2 separate regions of the Homo sapiens genome follow, and region 2 is linked to region 1. Evidence: fine-mapped expression QTL. A gene starts in region 1. The other region holds a variant in brackets. All regions are shown on one strand. Distances are from middle to middle. Region 1 holds the start of RPS14 (ribosomal protein S14). Region 2 holds the start of LOC124901106 (a long non-coding RNA gene).

Evidence for each region. PIP is the estimated chance that this variant, and not a neighbour inherited with it, causes the effect.
Region 2: its variant is fine-mapped to the expression of RPS14 in whole blood (TOPMed, PIP above 0.99).

What each region holds. Positions count from the first base shown.
Region 1 is chr5:150,446,053-150,454,382 of GRCh38, reverse strand. It overlaps RPS14 (ribosomal protein S14), which reads left to right and starts at 4,644. Exons shown (of 5, transcript NM_005617.4): 1 at 4,644-4,680; 2 at 6,648-6,798; 3 at 7,420-7,581. The coding sequence starts at 6,650. RefSeq lists a silencer at 41-241 and enhancers at 4,256-4,575, 4,189-5,127.
Region 2 is chr5:150,421,398-150,429,727 of GRCh38, reverse strand. LOC124901106 (a long non-coding RNA gene) reads right to left here and starts at 7,669. Exons shown (of 2, transcript XR_007058994.1): 1 at 7,522-7,669; 2 at 5,383-7,121. RefSeq lists enhancers at 221-270, 909-1,408, 1,409-1,910. The variant C/T (reference allele first, on the strand shown) is at 4,394.

The sequences.
Region 1 (8,330 bases):
AAGTTCTCCCCATGTGATAGTCTGAAATATGGCCTTGTGGGAAGGGAAAGACCTGACCGTCCCCCAGCCTGATACCCGTAAAGGGTCTGTGCTGAGGAGGATTAGTAAAAGAGGAAGGCCTCTTTGCAGTTGAGGTAAGAGGAAGGCATCTGTTTCCTGCTCGTCCCTGGGCAATGGAATGTCTCGTTGTAAAACGCAATTGTATATTTCATCTACTGAGATAGGAGAAAACCGCCTTAGGGCTGGAGGTGAGACATGCTGGCGGCAATACTGCTCTTTAATGCACCGAGATGTTTATGTATGTGCACATCAAAGCACAGCACCTTTTTCTTAACCTTGTTTATGACACAGAGACATTTGTTCACACGTTTTCCTGCTGACCCTCTCCCCACTATTACCCTATTGTCCTGCCACATCCCTCTCTCCAAGATGGTAGAGATAATGATCAATAAATACTGAAGGAACTCAGAGACCGGTGTCATCGTGGGCCCTCCATATGCTGAGCGCCAGTCCCCTGGCACTCTTTCTCTATACTTTGTCTCTGTGTCTCTTTCTTTTCTCAGTCTCTCATCCCACCTGACGAGAAACACCCACAGGTGTGGAGGGGCAGGCCACCCCTTCACCACCTCACAGCTCTGCTCAAATCACTCCTCAGCAAGGCTGCCTGGCCCTCTCTGTTTAATTCAGCCACCCACCCCACCCCTTTCCTCAGACCTTCAGTACCCTTCGCCCAGCCTGACTTTTTCTTTCTTCTTCTTCTTCTTTTTTTTTCTTTGAGATGGAGTTTCACTCTTGTCGCCCAGGCTGGAGTGCAACAGCGCGGTCTCAGCTCACTGCAACCTCTGCCTCCCAGGTTCAAGCTATTCTCGTGCTTCAGCCTCCCAAGTAGCTGGGATTACAGGCACCTGCCACCACCCCCAGCTAATTTTTGTATGTTTAGTAGCGACGGGGTTTCACCATGTTGGCCAGGTTGGTCTCAAACTCCTGACCTCAGGTGATCTGCCCACCTGAGCCATGCAAGGTGCTGGGATTACAGGTGTGAGCCACCACACCTGGCCAACTTTTTCTTCTTTCCACAGGACTGACCACTTTCTAACAAAATAGGAAGCTTACATAGACATTATGTCTGCTCTTCCTTCCAGAATGTAGACTTTGAGAGGGTAGGGACCATTGTTTTTGTCACTGATGTATCCCAAGTATTTACAATGTCAGACACATCCTAGGTGCTCAGTGAGTGCTCCCTGAGTGAGTGTGTGAGCTCTGAGAGGGGAGGGTAAGTACACCCCTGTGCTGGCAGTGTTGACAGCGCAGGGGTGCGGTGGGGTGGGGAACGCAGACATGGCAACAGTGAGGTGAGGCCCCACGGAAAGTGGCTGTGCTGCCCCTCCAGCCTCAGCCCCCATTCCTCTTCCCTTATTCACAACACCCCAGTACTACTGGCCATTTTTTAATTCCTTGAGTTCTCCAAACACCTACCCACTTCAGGGCCTTTGCATATTCTATTCTCCCTGCCCAGACCATTCTTCACACCTTCACGTAGCTAATTCCTACTCTACTTTCAAGTCTCAGTTCAAATGCCATGATTGTATCTCAGTGCCTGACAAAGAGTAAGCGTCCAATAAAGGTACAGGTTTTTGGCTGGGTGCGGTGGCTCATGCCTGTAATCCTAGCACTTTGGGAGGCCGAGGCTGGTGGATCACCTGAGGTCAGGAGTTCAAGATCAGCCTGGACAACATGGTGAAACCCCGTCTCTACTAAAAATACAAAAAATTAGCCAGGTGTGGTGAAGGGCGCCTGTAATCCCAACTACTTGGGAGGCTGAGGCAGGAGAATTGCTCGAACCCGGGAGGAGGAGGTTGTGGTGAGCTGAGATCGTGCGACTGCACTCCAGCCTGGGCGACAGAGTGAGACTCTGTCTCAAAACACAAAAGATACAGGTTTTCATTACACATTTTAAAAATATATATATTGGGTCTCACTATCGCCCAGGCTGGAGTGCAGTGGTGTGATCACAGCTCACTGCAGCCTTCACCTCCCAGGATCAGGTGATCCTCCCAAGTAGCTGGGATTATAGGTGCAGGTCACCATACCTGGTTAATTTTTCTATTTGTTGTAGAGAAGGTGTTTCACCATGTTGCCCAGACTGGTCTCCAACTCCTGAGCTCAAGTGATCCTCCTGCCTCAGTCTCCCACAGTGTTGGAATTATAGGCGTGAGCCACTGAGCCCTGAAGTTTTCAACATACATTTAAAAATGTACTATTATCGGCCAGGCGCGGTGGCTCACATCTGTAATCTCAGCACTTTGGAAGACCGCGGGGGCTGGATCACCTGAGGTCAGGAGTTCGAAATCAGCCTGGGCCAACATGGTGAAACCCCGTCTCTACTAAAAATACAAAAAAAAAAAAAAAAAACTACCCGGGTGTGGTGGTGTGTGCCTGTAGTCCCAGCTACTAGGGAGGCTGAGGCAGGGGAAGGCAACAGTGAGACTCTGTCTCAAAAAAAAAAAAAAAAATGAATAAAAATAAAAATATGCTATTATCATCCCATTTCACAGATGAGAAAACTGAAGCCCAGAGAGGTTACAATTTTTGCCCAAAGAACCATAGCTAATAACTGCAGAAACAATAAATATGTTGATTAAATAAAGTGGAGTTTGAAAGCAGTGACTTTGATGGTTTCTGGGATAAAGATAGGCTTCCCTGTGGAAAAATTTGTCCTGAGGTGATTGTGTGGGCTGCCTTCAGCCATAAGATCAAGGCTTGCTCCCTCCATGAAGCCACATGAGGTTTGGAGGTCTGTTTAATACAACTCTTAATCAAAGCGGAACTCACTCCACAATACTCCAGTCTCTGCTAACATACTGGGAAGCTCATTAAAACAAAAAAGCCCTCTCCTTCAAAAAATACAGACATTTCACAGAAGAGATGCAAATGGTTAAAACAATCCGTAAAGAGATGTCTGACGTCACTCATCATCGAAGAAATGCAATGCAACGAGAAGGTATGTTGAGGCTGGGTGCATTGGCTCACGCCTATAATGCCAGCCCTTTGGGAGACCGAGGCGGGTGGATCACCTGAGGCAGGAGTTCGAGACCAGCCTGGACAACATGGTGAAACCCCGTCTCTACTAAAAATACAAAAATTAGCCGGGTGTGGTGGCGCACACCTGTAATCCCAGCTACTCGGGAGATGAGGCAGGAGAATCACTTGAACCCAGGAGGCGGAGCTTGCAGTGAGCCAAGATGGCGTCACTGCACTCCAGCCTGGGCAACAAGAGCCAGACTCCGTCTCAAAAAAAAAAAGAAGGTATGTTGAGTTTTTCAGTTTAGCAGAATAAATTTTTTTTTTTTTTGAGACAGGGTCTCGCTGTGTCACCCAGGCTGGAGCCACGGGATATATTTATATATTTAAAATATATTTATAATATTTATATAGTATGTAATACAAAAATACTATATATATTCCATATAAATATTACATATAGTACATAGATAAAATGTATCTACCGCTTGCCTAGCTCTGTGAGGTACACTTCTTGGCCCTTCCCCACAGCTCCGACATATTCTCCCAAGCCTTCAAGGTCCTTCAATATTGTTATTAGAGGCTGGGCACGGTGGCTCACGCCTGTAATCCCAGCACTTTGGGAGGCCGAGGCAGGTGGATCACGAGGTCAGAAAATCCAGACCACCCTAGTCAACACGGTAAAACCCCGTCTCTACTAATACACACACACAAAAAATTTGTCGGGCGTGGTGGCACGCGCCTGTAGTCCCAGCTACTTGGGAGGCTGAGGCAGAATAGCTTGAACCTGGGAGGCAGAGGTTGCGGTCAGCCGAGATTGCGCCACTGCACTCCAGCCTTGGCTACAGAACAAGATTCGGTCGAAATATATACATGTATATTGTTATTAGAGGGCTATGTGGAAGTAGCTATTAAACACGAGGGCTTTGAAGCTAGAATTCCAAACCCTTCTGCAAAGGTGTGCTCTCAGTTAACATCCTTTATCTGTAAGAGGGAAATCAAAATTATTTGATAATGTCTTGAGGAGTAAATGAAGCAATGCATATAAACTGTTTAGCCCAGACCGGTCTGAAAATACATATTGAATAATTTATTCTTATTTTGCCCATTATATAATATGCCAAAGTAAGTGATTACGGTGTGTTTTCCCCGACTATGTTGCCTAGGCTGGCCTCGAACTACTTGGACGAAGCGATCCTCAGCCTCCTGAGTAACTGGGACCACAGGCCGGCGCCACCCTAGCTTTAATTAAGGCCGTTTTGTTGTTGTTATTCCCCTGCTCCACACAAGGGGCGCTGCCGCTCCAAGGCTGCCAGGGCGGGAGTCAGGATGGCGGAAGTCTGTCTAGCCACGACCACCGCCATCATGGAATACAGGCCCACCTCACCCCGCGGGTGTAGCCGCTTCGTACTGTCGCTTAGGCCGACCCGCTCGCAGCGACAACCAGCCCTCTACCTCTTTTCGCTCTCCCTTAAGTAATAAACCGTCTTTCCTTATGACGAGTCTTAAACTCTTTGGGAGGAATAATGCCGGCGTCTTCCGGAACCCGACCTCGCCCCGTGACCTCAGAGGTATACTTCCGGGACACGGAAGTGACCCCCGTCGCTCCGCCCCCTCCCACTCTCTCTTTCCGGTGTGGAGTCTGGAGACGACGTGCAGGTAGGAGGCCCGGGCGCGACAATCGGGGGGCATCCTGCGGCGAGGGGACCCTGTGGGGCTTGGGACGAGAGACGGGGGTCTTTCCGTGGGAACCGAGCTAGGTGCCGGGCAAGAGACGCGCGGCTGGCCCACCTGGATCCTGGCCAACTCGGGATTGAGTTCGTTCCTGGTCTCAGAAGGCCCGTTTTGCTTTCAGGGAGGAGCTTGTGAAGTAAGGGTGAGTGCGGGTCCAGCCTTTTAAGGCCTCGGCCCCGCAATACGGCCACGGCCACGGCCGCGTTTGAGCTGCACAGCGTAGTTGAGGGAACCCGGGACAGACGTGGGCTCCCGCCTCTACCTCGCCAAACTTTTTTCTTGGTGATCGCAGGCCCACGCCTAATCTCGTTTGTTTCCTCGTTTGCAAAATAGGAATAACAATAGCACCGATCCCATGGGTTTGTAGTGATCATTCAAAGAAGGAAAGCAGGGAAAACTCTCGCACTATGTTGGATGCTTCTAAATCTGGGCGATTCTTTCCGTTGCTGAGTCGGGCACGTTGCAAGTTCTGGGCGCTCAGGGCCCAGCACCAATGTTTGCTGTGCGCTTGCCCTGCGTTTATATACTCCTGATGACCACTCTGCTCGTTACTTTAGGGGATGTTAGGAACGGAGAAACTGCAAATTGGCATTTACTGAATGGCCATCATGCCGAAACATACTCATGCTTACGTATTTGAGATATGCTGGAGCCTTTCTATGCTTCTCGAGGCAGAACTTTGGGCTTCTCTCCTGTGGCGCGTTCCTTACAATAGTTAACGCACTGGGTCGTGCTCATTGGTCTGATTTGAAGATAGGAACATTTAACTTCGTACACCCAAGACTTACACTTGAAGTACTTACTGTGGTCACACACTTAACTAAAGTTTATATAGGGAAGGCAGAGGAGAGATCTAGGAACACCTGAGACAGACTAGGGTAGTTATTTGTGGTGTAGAGGCATCTTGGCAGGAGGCAGAGAGTGCTGGGCTGGGAGTCAGGACACGTTGTTTCTATGTTTGGTTTTGCCACTGTCTTTACTGTGACCATAGGCTGAGACACTCTCTATCTTCACCATCTGCAGGATATCGATTAGTGTTAGTGTCTTCTGAAAATGTTAAATTGTTCTGAACACCAGGAGGTTCAGAAGGCCTGGGGCTTTAGGCCGGAAGCAGTCTTATCCTAGCCTTCCACTTTCTCATTCATTCTCACCCGCCTTCCTCCTGTCAGTTTCTCTCTCCCTTAGATCTTGTGACAGTATGATTGCAATTATTATGAAGGTCATAATAGGTTAGAGTTATTTAGTCTCAGGACCCATCAGATTTCTGAGATGGGTCTTTTCCATTAGCCTGCCTTTTGGATATATTTTAGTGCCTTTGATATTTGATGTTGGTGACAAAGATTTAGTTCTAAATAGTTGTGGGAGTCAAATCAGTTGCATTTTTGAACATTTTGAAGGGATCAGGTGGAGCACAGGAAAACAGGAGATGAGAGGCTTGAGGGCTGTGTTGGTAAGGGTCCCTTGAATTCTAAGCTGAGGAGTTCATGCAGGAATCAAGCAGCTCCCTCGCCCCATGAAGGGTGTTAGGAATGGTACCAGTACATGGGTAGCTGTTGGTCTTGGGTTTCTTCTTGCCTTTTGGGGTGCAGCCTTCAGGCATCTGCTGCTAGATCCCTAGGCTTCTATCTTGTAGGTGCTGTGAGCTGAGCTGTTGGTAGTTTCTGGGGAAAGGATACTTCTCATGGTACTTTGCCATGTGGCCACAGTTGATACCCCCCCAAGTGCAAGGAGAAAGAAGTTTTAGTGAGGCAGAAATGAGAGAATACAGTAGAGTATTGGATGGAAGAAGACAGGGACATGAAGCAGGACTAGGGTTTCATTTAATAGCCAGGGGAAAGGGATTCTGGAAATGTTTTGTCTGTTAACCTTGAGTTTCTTTTCCTTCCACTCAGAAATGGCACCTCGAAAGGGGAAGGAAAAGAAGGAAGAACAGGTCATCAGCCTCGGACCTCAGGTGGCTGAAGGAGAGAATGTATTTGGTGTCTGCCATATCTTTGCATCCTTCAATGACACTTTTGTCCATGTCACTGATCTTTCTGGCAAGTGAGTACCTGGGTGGAGAGGCATCCAGCTGGCAAAAGGCTGAGGAAGGCAATGGCTGGGACGGGCTAGCAGTTCAGGGGATTCTCTCTAAAGAAATGCTGTTTTGTCCAGGTAAGAAAATGTGCTTGTCCATTTAGCCCACAAATATTGTGATTTCCCAGGGGTTACAAGAGAGGAGACACATTCTTCGTCCTTACAGCGTGATGGTCATTGAATCCTTGGTTTCTTGGGAATTATCTTCTTTCCCTAGTTCCCTTTGCAGGAGCAGCAGTGGACTGCAAGTGGGCTCTGGGTGCGGGTTCGACGGCCATTTAGCAAGTTGTGACTTGTGTGAAATCACTCAGATTCTGAGTTTTGGTTTCCTCATATGTAAAATTAGGACAGTAATGTCTACCTTGTGGAGTAATGGTAAGGATTAAATGCAAAAGTAGATATATAAAATGTTAATACTGAGTATAGCTATATTGGGCCATTCAACCCCACTGGACTGAACTCCATGAGGGCAGAGCCCATGACCATCATCCTCCACCATGACTGAGCTGTGTTGCTCTTCACTCATTAGGATATCGTAAGCACTCCTTGTTGGACGAGGAAGAAATGACCCTGTGCTTTTGTCCCCAGGGAAACCATCTGCCGTGTGACTGGTGGGATGAAGGTAAAGGCAGACCGAGATGAATCCTCACCATATGCTGCTATGTTGGCTGCCCAGGATGTGGCCCAGAGGTGCAAGGAGCTGGGTATCACCGCCCTACACATCAAACTCCGGGCCACAGGAGGAAATAGGTACGAGTCGCAGAGGGGATGGCTGGGTGGTAGAAAACCTGCTGGGCTTGGGTGCTGGAGCACCTGGATTTGAGGTTTGGGTTTTTTGTTGTGACCTTGAACAAGATATTTTAGGCATATACATACTTAATAATTGGCTCCTGTGTACACCCCCCAGCAGCTCAGTGTTGAGCACCCACTGTATACTAGGAGCTGTGTTTCAGGTACTAGAAGAGAGTGATGGGGAAACAGACATGGTCTCTACCCTCCTTGTGTGGGACCGAGGCTGGTGGGAGAGTCAGACTTTAAACAACAGAGCACCAGGGAGTATGTGGTTTTCATTTGTGACAAATGCCAGGAAGCACAAGTAAGGAGTTGGTGATAAAGTGTAATTTAAACTAGGGTCTAAATGATAAGTCCGGAGTCCTTCCAGTGAAATAAGGACAGGAGGAGGGTATTCCAGCTAGAGACAACTGCAGGGAAAGGTCTTGAGGTGGGGGTGAACCTGGGCACCTGTGAAGGAAAGAGTGGCATGAGGTGCAGTCAGAGGGGAAGAGGTGGAGTCCTGTAGGAGAGGGGAAGGACCTGGATTTGAGTGATGGGGGCATGAAAGCTGAAATAGATGACTGTTGCGTGAACAAGCCAGACAGTGGTCAGAACATAACAACAAACCATAGTGGCCCCCTCAGCCTAAAATATTTACTGTCTGGCTTTTTTTTTTTTCCTCTTTTTTGAGACAGGGTCTCACTCTCACCCAGGCTGGAGTGCAG
Region 2 (8,330 bases), 25 kb after region 1:
ACGTAAAAGCTCAGTGGCACCTTGGTCCCACCCCTACCATACACAGTCTGGCCCGTGGTGTGTGGCCTTCTCCTGACCTCCACAGCCCCCAGCAGGCCTTGCCTCTCCAGCTTGACTTTCCACAGCCTCTTGACTGGGCTGCCTGACTCCAGCTGTGACCTGACCCCAGCCCCAGATGGACTCTTGACCCTAAGTCCAACACCAGCCTTCAGTAGTGTGGCCTCTAACACTTGACTCCTGCACAGACCGACTGAGCCCCACCAGAGACCAACTCCTCCAGAGATCAACCCCACCAGAGACCAACCCCACCAGAGACCAGCCCCACCAGAGACCAAACCCCACCAGAGACCAACCCCACCAGAGACAGACCAACCCCACCAGAGACCAGCCCTACCAGAGACCAACCCCACCAGAGCCCAACCCCACCAGAGACCAACCCCACTAGAGACCAACCCCACCAGAGACCAAACCCCACCAAAGACAGACCAACCGCACTAGAGACAGACCAACCGCACCAGAGACCAGCGCCAGCAGAGCCCAACCCCACCAGAGCCCAACCCCACCAGAGACCAGCCCCGAGACAGACCAACCCCACCAGAGACCAAACCCCACCAGAGACCAACCCCACCAGAGACAGACCAACCCCACCAGAGACAGACCAACCCCACCAGAGACCAACCACACCAGAGACCAGCCCCACCAGAGACCAAACCCCACCAGACGAGACCAACCCCACCAGAGACAGACCAAACCCACCAGAGACAGACCAACCCCACCAGAGACCAGCCCCACCAGAAACCAGCCCCACCAGAGACCAGGACTTAGCCCTTGCCAGGTGTCTCCCAATATCTCTAGGTCCCAGCTTCTAGTCCAGATCAGTGCCTGGCCCATAACCGGCACTTAACAAATATTTGTGGAGTGAATGGATTTTCAAGGGAGGACTCAGTCCCCGTCAGCCGCACTACAGCCATCACAGGTCCAAAGGCTGCACTACTTAGCCACCTGCCAGATGGTATTTGCCCTGGGAGAAGAGTGGGAAGTCCCCGATCTTGAATTGGTTGTAGAACATATGACCCTGGGCAAATTATAACCCTCTCCTGAGCTCCACTGACCCTTCAATAAGACGGTTGTGAGCAGAGCCACTCAGCTCTCTCTCCTGGAAGCCCTGTAACCACAGTCAGGGCCTTTTGTTTCTAAGCATTTCCTTGTCCAGTGTCCCCCCGTGACCTTCACAGCAGCCCATGAGGCACGGGGATGATCTGCCCATCTTGTACAGATCCCCCACGCAGCAGCCCTAGCCACCCTTTCACAGCAAGAGTCAGGAGGCGACTCCTCTGCTCAGAGCCTTCCCACGGCTCCCGGCTTCACTCGGCATAAAGCCAAAGTCCAGTGGGTGGCTGCAGGATCTGGCTGCACACCTCGTGACCTCCCGTCTGTCCCTCCCTCTCCCTTTTCCTCTCAGTCGCTCCACCCCAGCAATGCTGGCCTCCTTGTGGTTCGTCAACCAGGCCGGACACATTCCCACCATGGGACCTCTGCTCTGGCTGTGATTTCTGCCCGGTTGTGGGCTTGGTGAACTTCCTCCCCTCCTTCAGGCCTATGCTCAAATCTCACCTTGTCAATGAGGCCCATCCCAACACCCTATCAAAGACTACAACCTGCCCCCAACCCTGCATCTCCAGAAACAACTTTCCTTTCCTCCATAGCACTTACCACTCTCTAACAAAAGTATAATTTACTGACCTGTCTCCTGCCCCTGGAATGTAAACTCCATACGGATGGGGATACTTGTCTGCCTTGTTCATCCATGTATCCCAAGCTCCTAGAACAGTGCCTGGCATAAAGTATTCAATAAATAACTGCTGAACAAGTGAGAGAAGGGATGATGTATACTTGCCTGGGGCACATATGGAAGGTATAGGACTAGAGCCCAGGCCTGCTCCCTCCACACAAACAGCCCCCTTTCCAGCCCCTTATTCGTGGCCAAGGTGTACTGGGGTCCAAGAGGCCCCACACAAGATGGGTGGGCTGGGCCATGTGGGCTGGTGGGCAGGGCTGGGTGCACACTGCCTGCCTGCTTCTTGAGGCAGCTCATCAGGGACTCAGGGACCAAGAAGGAGAATGGGGAAGGGGAGGTCTCAGGAGACTCCACCTGCCCGGCTCACCCAGGGTGAACTGGTAGGAACTCACACCTCTGGGGCCTGGAGTGTCCAGACCAAAAGAGGGCAGGCATCTTAGAGAGTCACTCAGACTAGCTCAGGGGTGACACCAGGGATGAGACTCCCGAGATGAGACCCCCAGGAAAGTCCAGAGAGGGAGGATGAGGCTCCCTCTGGCTCTGTTGAGCAGCTCCAAATCTCTGAACATGCACAGGGTCCCAGATTCAGAATGAACAGGTTTATGGAAAAGAACATATTGCTGAACTCTCTGACATGTATTGCACGCTGTCTCTATGCCAGCCATGTGTGTATTACTTCACTCAATCCTTTCGCAACCCAATGAGATGGGTTCTATTAGCATGCCCATTTTACAGGTGAGGAAACTGAGGCACAAAGGATTTAAGTAACTTGCTAAAAATCATACATCTGGTAAGTGGTTTGACTTAGAATTTTTTTCCTATGAAAATAGAAAACTGGCAGAGTCTCATGTCTGTAATCCCAGCACTTTGGGAGGCTGAGGTGGGCGGATCACTTGAGGTCAAGAGTTCAAGACCAGCCTGGCCAACATGGTGAAACTCCATCTCTATGGAAAAAAAAAAATTATCCAGGCATGGTGGTGGGCACCTATAATCCCAGATACTTGGGAGGCTGAGGCAATAGAATCACTTGAACCCGGGAGGCGGAGGTTGCAGTGAGCCAAGATCACGCCACTGCACTCCAGCCTGGGTGACAGAGCAAGACTCCATAAAACAAAACAAAAACAAAACAAAACAAAACAAAAAAACACAAAACTGAAAAACAAAATAGAAAACTTCTCATAAAGTACTGAGACATTTTGATGAGGATTAAAACACACATTATGGGCCAGGCATGGGGGACCATAATGTAATCCCAGCATGTTGGGAGGCTGAGATGGGCAGATCACCTGAGGTCAGGAGTTCAAGACCAGCCTGACCAACATGGAGAAACCCATCTCTACTAAAAATACAAAATTAGCTGGGCGGGGGCGGCGCATGCCTGTAATCCCAGCTACAGGCTGGGAGGCTGAGGCAGGAGAATCGCTTGAACCCAGGAGGCAGAGGTTGCGGCGAGCCGAGATCGCGCCATTGCACTCCAGCCTGGGCAACAAGAGCGAAACTCTCTCTCAAAAAAAAAAAACCACACACACATTATGTGCCTATGCTGTAAAAGAGCCCATTGTCCCCCAGTTGTCAATATAACCACAATGGGAATGAACAATGTCTTCTTGGCAGTGAGGACAATTCCTGTACAAAGGAAACTGAGTTTGTACATAATTGACTTAAAATTTTTTCTAACCATTTATTAAGAAAAAATTTAACATACAGAAAAATTGATCAGATACCCACCACTTAGCTTCAACTACTATCAATTTCACTTCTCTCTCTGTGTTTTATTTTATTATTTTGTTTTATTTTTTTTTTTGGAGACAGGGTCTTCTCCTGTCACCAAGGCTGAATGAAATGCAGTGGCACAACACAGCTCACTGCAGCCTCAATCTCCTGGGCTAAGTGATCCTCCCACCTCAGCCTCCCAAGTAGCTGGGACCACAGGTACATGCCACCATGCCCGGTGAATTTTTTATTTTCATTTTTTCTTTTTTCTTTCTTTTTTTTTTTTTTTTTTTAACATTTTTTGTAGAGATGGGGTCTTTCCATGTTGCCCAGGCTTGTCTTGAACTCCTAGGCTCAAGGGATCCTCCCATCTTAGCCTTCCAAAGGGTTGTAACTACAGATGTGAGCCACTGTGTCTGACCTCTTACTTTTAATTTTATTTATTATTATTTTTTGAGACACGGTCTCACTTTGTCACCCAGGCTGGAGTGCAGTGGCATGATCTTGGCTCACTGCAGCCTTGACTTCCTGGGATCAAGCAATTCTTCTGCCTCAGTTCCCCAAGGAGCTGGGACTACAGGCACGTGCTACCACATCTGGCTTATTTTTTGTAGAGATGATGTTTCACCATGTGGCGCAGGCTGGTCTCAAGCTCCTGAGCTCAAGTGATCTGCCTGCCTTGATCTCCCAAAGTGCTAGAATTACAGCATGAACCACCATGCCTAGGTCTTTATTTTTAGTTTTTTGAAACAGGGTCTCTGTTACCCAGGCTGGAGTGCAGTAGTGTGATCACGGCTCACTGCAGCCTCCATCTCCTGGGCTCAAGCCATCCTCCCATCTCAGCCTCTTGAGTAGCTGGGACTACAGTTGTTTGCCACCAGG[C/T]CTAGATAATAAAAAAAAAATTTTGTGGAGATGGAGTCTCACTATGTTGCCCAGGCTGGTCTTGAACTCCTAGGCTCAAGCAATCCTTCTGCCTTGGGCTCCCCATGTGCTGGGATTACAAATGTGAGCCACTGCATCTGGCCTTTATTTCTATTTTTGAGAGAGAGTTTTGCTCTGTCACCCAGGCTGGAGTGCCATGGCATGAACACAGCTCACTGCAACCTCGAACTCCTGGGCTCCAGCGATCCTCCTGCCTCAGCCTCCTGAGTAGCTAGGACTACAGGCACGCACTACTATGCCTGGCTAATTAAAAAAAAAAATTTAAGAGGCAAGGTCTCTCTATATTGCCTAGACTAGTCTTAAACTCCTGGCCTCAAGCTGCCTTCCCAAGCAATCCTCCCACCTCAGCTTCCGAAAGTGTTGAAATTACAGGTATGAGCCACCACACCCGGCCACTCTCTCTCTCTTCTCTAAACAATGTGAAAATAAGTTCAAACATCATGTCATGTTACCTCCAAGTACTTCAGCCTCATCTCCTAAAAAAATTCTCCTACCAGACTAAAACTTCATTATCATACCTAAGAAGATCAATAACAATTTCCAAATGTCCATCTGATATTCAAATTTCCCTGCTTTTAAAAAAATCTTTACGGCCGGGCGCGGCGGCTCAAGCCTGTAGTCCCAGCACTTTGGGAGGCCGAGGCGGGCGGATCATGAGGTCAGGAGATCGAGACCATCCTGGCTAACACGGTGAAACCCTGTGTCTACTAAAAATACAAAAATTAGCCGGGCGTAGTGGCGGGCGCCTGTAGTCCCAGCTGCTCGGGAGGCTGAGGCAGGAGAATGGCGTGAACCTGGGAGGCGGAGCTTGCAGTGAGCTGAGATTGCGCCACTGCACTCCAGCCTGGGCGACAGAGCCAGACTCCGTCTCAAAAAAAAAAAAAAAATCTTTTATACTTGTTTTTTTCAAATCGTACATCTTACAAAGATTTACAAATTGCATTTGGTTTATTGTTTTTTAAATCCTTTAAAATACAGATCCCCATGTATCTACACACATACACCTTTTTTTGTGACATTGATTCTTTGGAGAATGCAGGTGTTATCTTTTTTTTTTGGAGACGGAGTCTCGCTCTGTCACCGAGGCTGGAGTGCAGTGGCGCGATCTCGGCTCACTGCAACCTCACCTCTCGGGTTCAAGCAACTCTCCTGCCTCAGTCTCCTGAGTAGCTGGGACTACAGGTGCACACTGCCATGCCCGGCTAATTTTTTGTATTTTAGTAGGGACGGGGTTTCACTGTGTTGCCCAGGCTGGTCTCGAACTCCTGAGCTCAGGCAATCCGCCCACCTCGGCCTCCCAAAGTGCTAGGATTACAGGCGTGAGCCGCCGTGCCTGGCAGCAGGTGTTATCTTATAGGCTGTCCCTGGATATATCTGATTGTTTCTTCATGGTGTTATTTAACTTGTTCTTCTACCCCCTGTATTGACTCTAAACTGGAGTTTAGGTCCAAAGCCAGATTCAGGCTGGGCGTTGTGGCTCACGTCGGCAATCCCAGAACTTTGGGAGGTCAAGGTGGTAGGATCATGAGGTCAACAGTTTGAGACCAGCCCGGGCAACATGGCGAGACCCTGTCTCTATTAAAAATACCCACCACCCCCCCAAAAAAAAAGCCAGGTGTGGCTCTGCATGCCTGTGCTCCCAGCTACTTGGGAGGCTGAGGTGGGAGGATTGCTTGAGCCAGGGAGGCAAGGAGGTTGCAGTAAGCCAAGATTACCCCACTGCACTTCAGCCTGGGTGACAGAGTGAGACTCTGTCTCAGAAAAAAAAAAAAAAGGCAGATTCAGGTTAACAATCTTTAGTAAAGATACTGCCCAGCTCATGCTGAGTATTATTATTATTATATCCCATCCAGAGACACATGTCAGATTGTTCCACTATTGATGATGCTAAATTTGATCACTTGTCTGAGGTGGTGACAGCAAGACTGCACCATTTTTTACTACTGTAAAACACCTCTCCCCTTTGGCAACCAGCAAGAGGCTTCAGGTGGACTCTTTGGCATGTGACTGTTCTGTCCTCCCCCAGCCTTTCATCCCAGGGTTCTGACTCCCTGGATAATCCTGTCAATTATTATACGATCAATTATTGATCAATTATTTTACGAAGGGTTACAACAAGATGATTTTCTATTTCTGTCTTTTCTTCTGCAGAAATGCAAGAAGCTTGCACTCTTCTGTAAAGAAGAGTTTTTTTCTCATCAACTGGGATTGAACTACAGCTCCTTCTAAAGAGGCAGGACAAATTATTATTACTATTATTATTATTATTTTGAGATAGGGTCTCTTGCTCGGTTGCCTAGTCTGGAGTGTGATGATGCAATCACAGCTCACTGCAGCCTCAACCTCCTGGGCTCAAGCCATCCTCCCACCTTAACCTCCCAAGTAGCTGGCACTACATGTGTACACCACCACGCTTTTGCTAATTTTTAAATTTTTTGTAGAGACAGGGTTCTTATGTTGCCCAGGCTGGTCTTGAACTCCTGGGCTCAAGCAATCCTCTCGCCTCAGCCTCCTGAAGTGCTGGAATTACAGGTATGAACCACCAGGCCTGGCCAAATTATTCTTATTGAGGCTGGCATTGTTCCGTATCTGGCTGGCGGTGCCCCTTCAAGTTGGCTCCTGGGTCCTTCTTTCAAGCCCCAGGAGTCTTTGAGAACTTCTTGGCTTTCTGGAAAGAAAAAAACAGAGATGTCTCAGCATCACCTGCATTCCCCCATCTCCAGCCCTGAAACCAGCCATTTGGAAGCTGGGATGTGGCCCCAGGCAGTCTGCCTCAAGTTCTTTTGTTTTTCACACTCATGCAAACTGCAGAACAGTTCCAGTTCTGGGGACCTTGCTGTGTGACCTTGGGCCAGTTCCTTTCCCCTCTCTAAGTCATACTTTCTCTGTATGAAACTCTGTGGAGCTGGGTTCCACCTTACTCCATCTCCCCATCAGGGTGTGGCATCCAAGCTCCACTGCTTCCTGTTACTCTGTCTCCCTCCTCCTGTGGTCAGGGGTAGGTGGGACAAGGCTCCTTCCCTGGGCGGTGGAGCCTGTGTGACAAGTGAGAAACTGGGACTTCTTACCCTGTAAGGAAAGATGCAGGGAGCCATTGTCCACGCCCTCTGGGAAACTCAGTCTTGGGACCCTCCCTCTTGGCTGGCATCAGTCTCTAACCTCCAAGGGCACGGGCAGGATGACCGTGGGATTTCCCTCAGCTGTGTCCTGAAACTGCTGCACAGAGAAAAGAGTTCGGACTGCCATTCTATCACCATTGGTTTAGAATCTAGTGACTGTGATGCATTATTCCCTTTATTTTAAATTTAGGCTGGGCGCGGTGGCTCACGCCTATAATCGCAGCACTTTGAGAGGCCGAGGTGGGCAGGTCATTTGAGGTCAGGAGTTGGAGACCAGCCTGACCAACATCGTGAAACCCCGTCTCTATGAAAATACAAAAATTAGCCGGGCATGGTGGTAGGCACCTGTAATCCCACCTACTCAGGAGGCTGAGGCAAGAGAATCGCTTGAACTCAGGAGGCAGAGGTTGCAGGGAGCTGAGATCACGCCACTGCACTCCAGCCTGGTGACACAGTGAGACTCCGTCACACACACACACACACACACACACACACACACACACCCCAAAACAAAAAAAACTATAAATTTAGTTTTACCTTGTATTGAAGTTGTAAATTCACATAGTCTAAAGAATCAGGCCGGGTGCAGTAGCTCACGCCTGTAATCCCAGCACATTGGGAGGCTGAGGCGGGCAGATCACCTGAGGTCAGGAGTTCAAGACCAGCCTGGTCAACATGGTGAAACCCTGTCTCTATTATAAACACAAAAAAATTAGCCTGGCATGGTAGCACGAGCCTGTAGTCCCAGCTACTAAGGA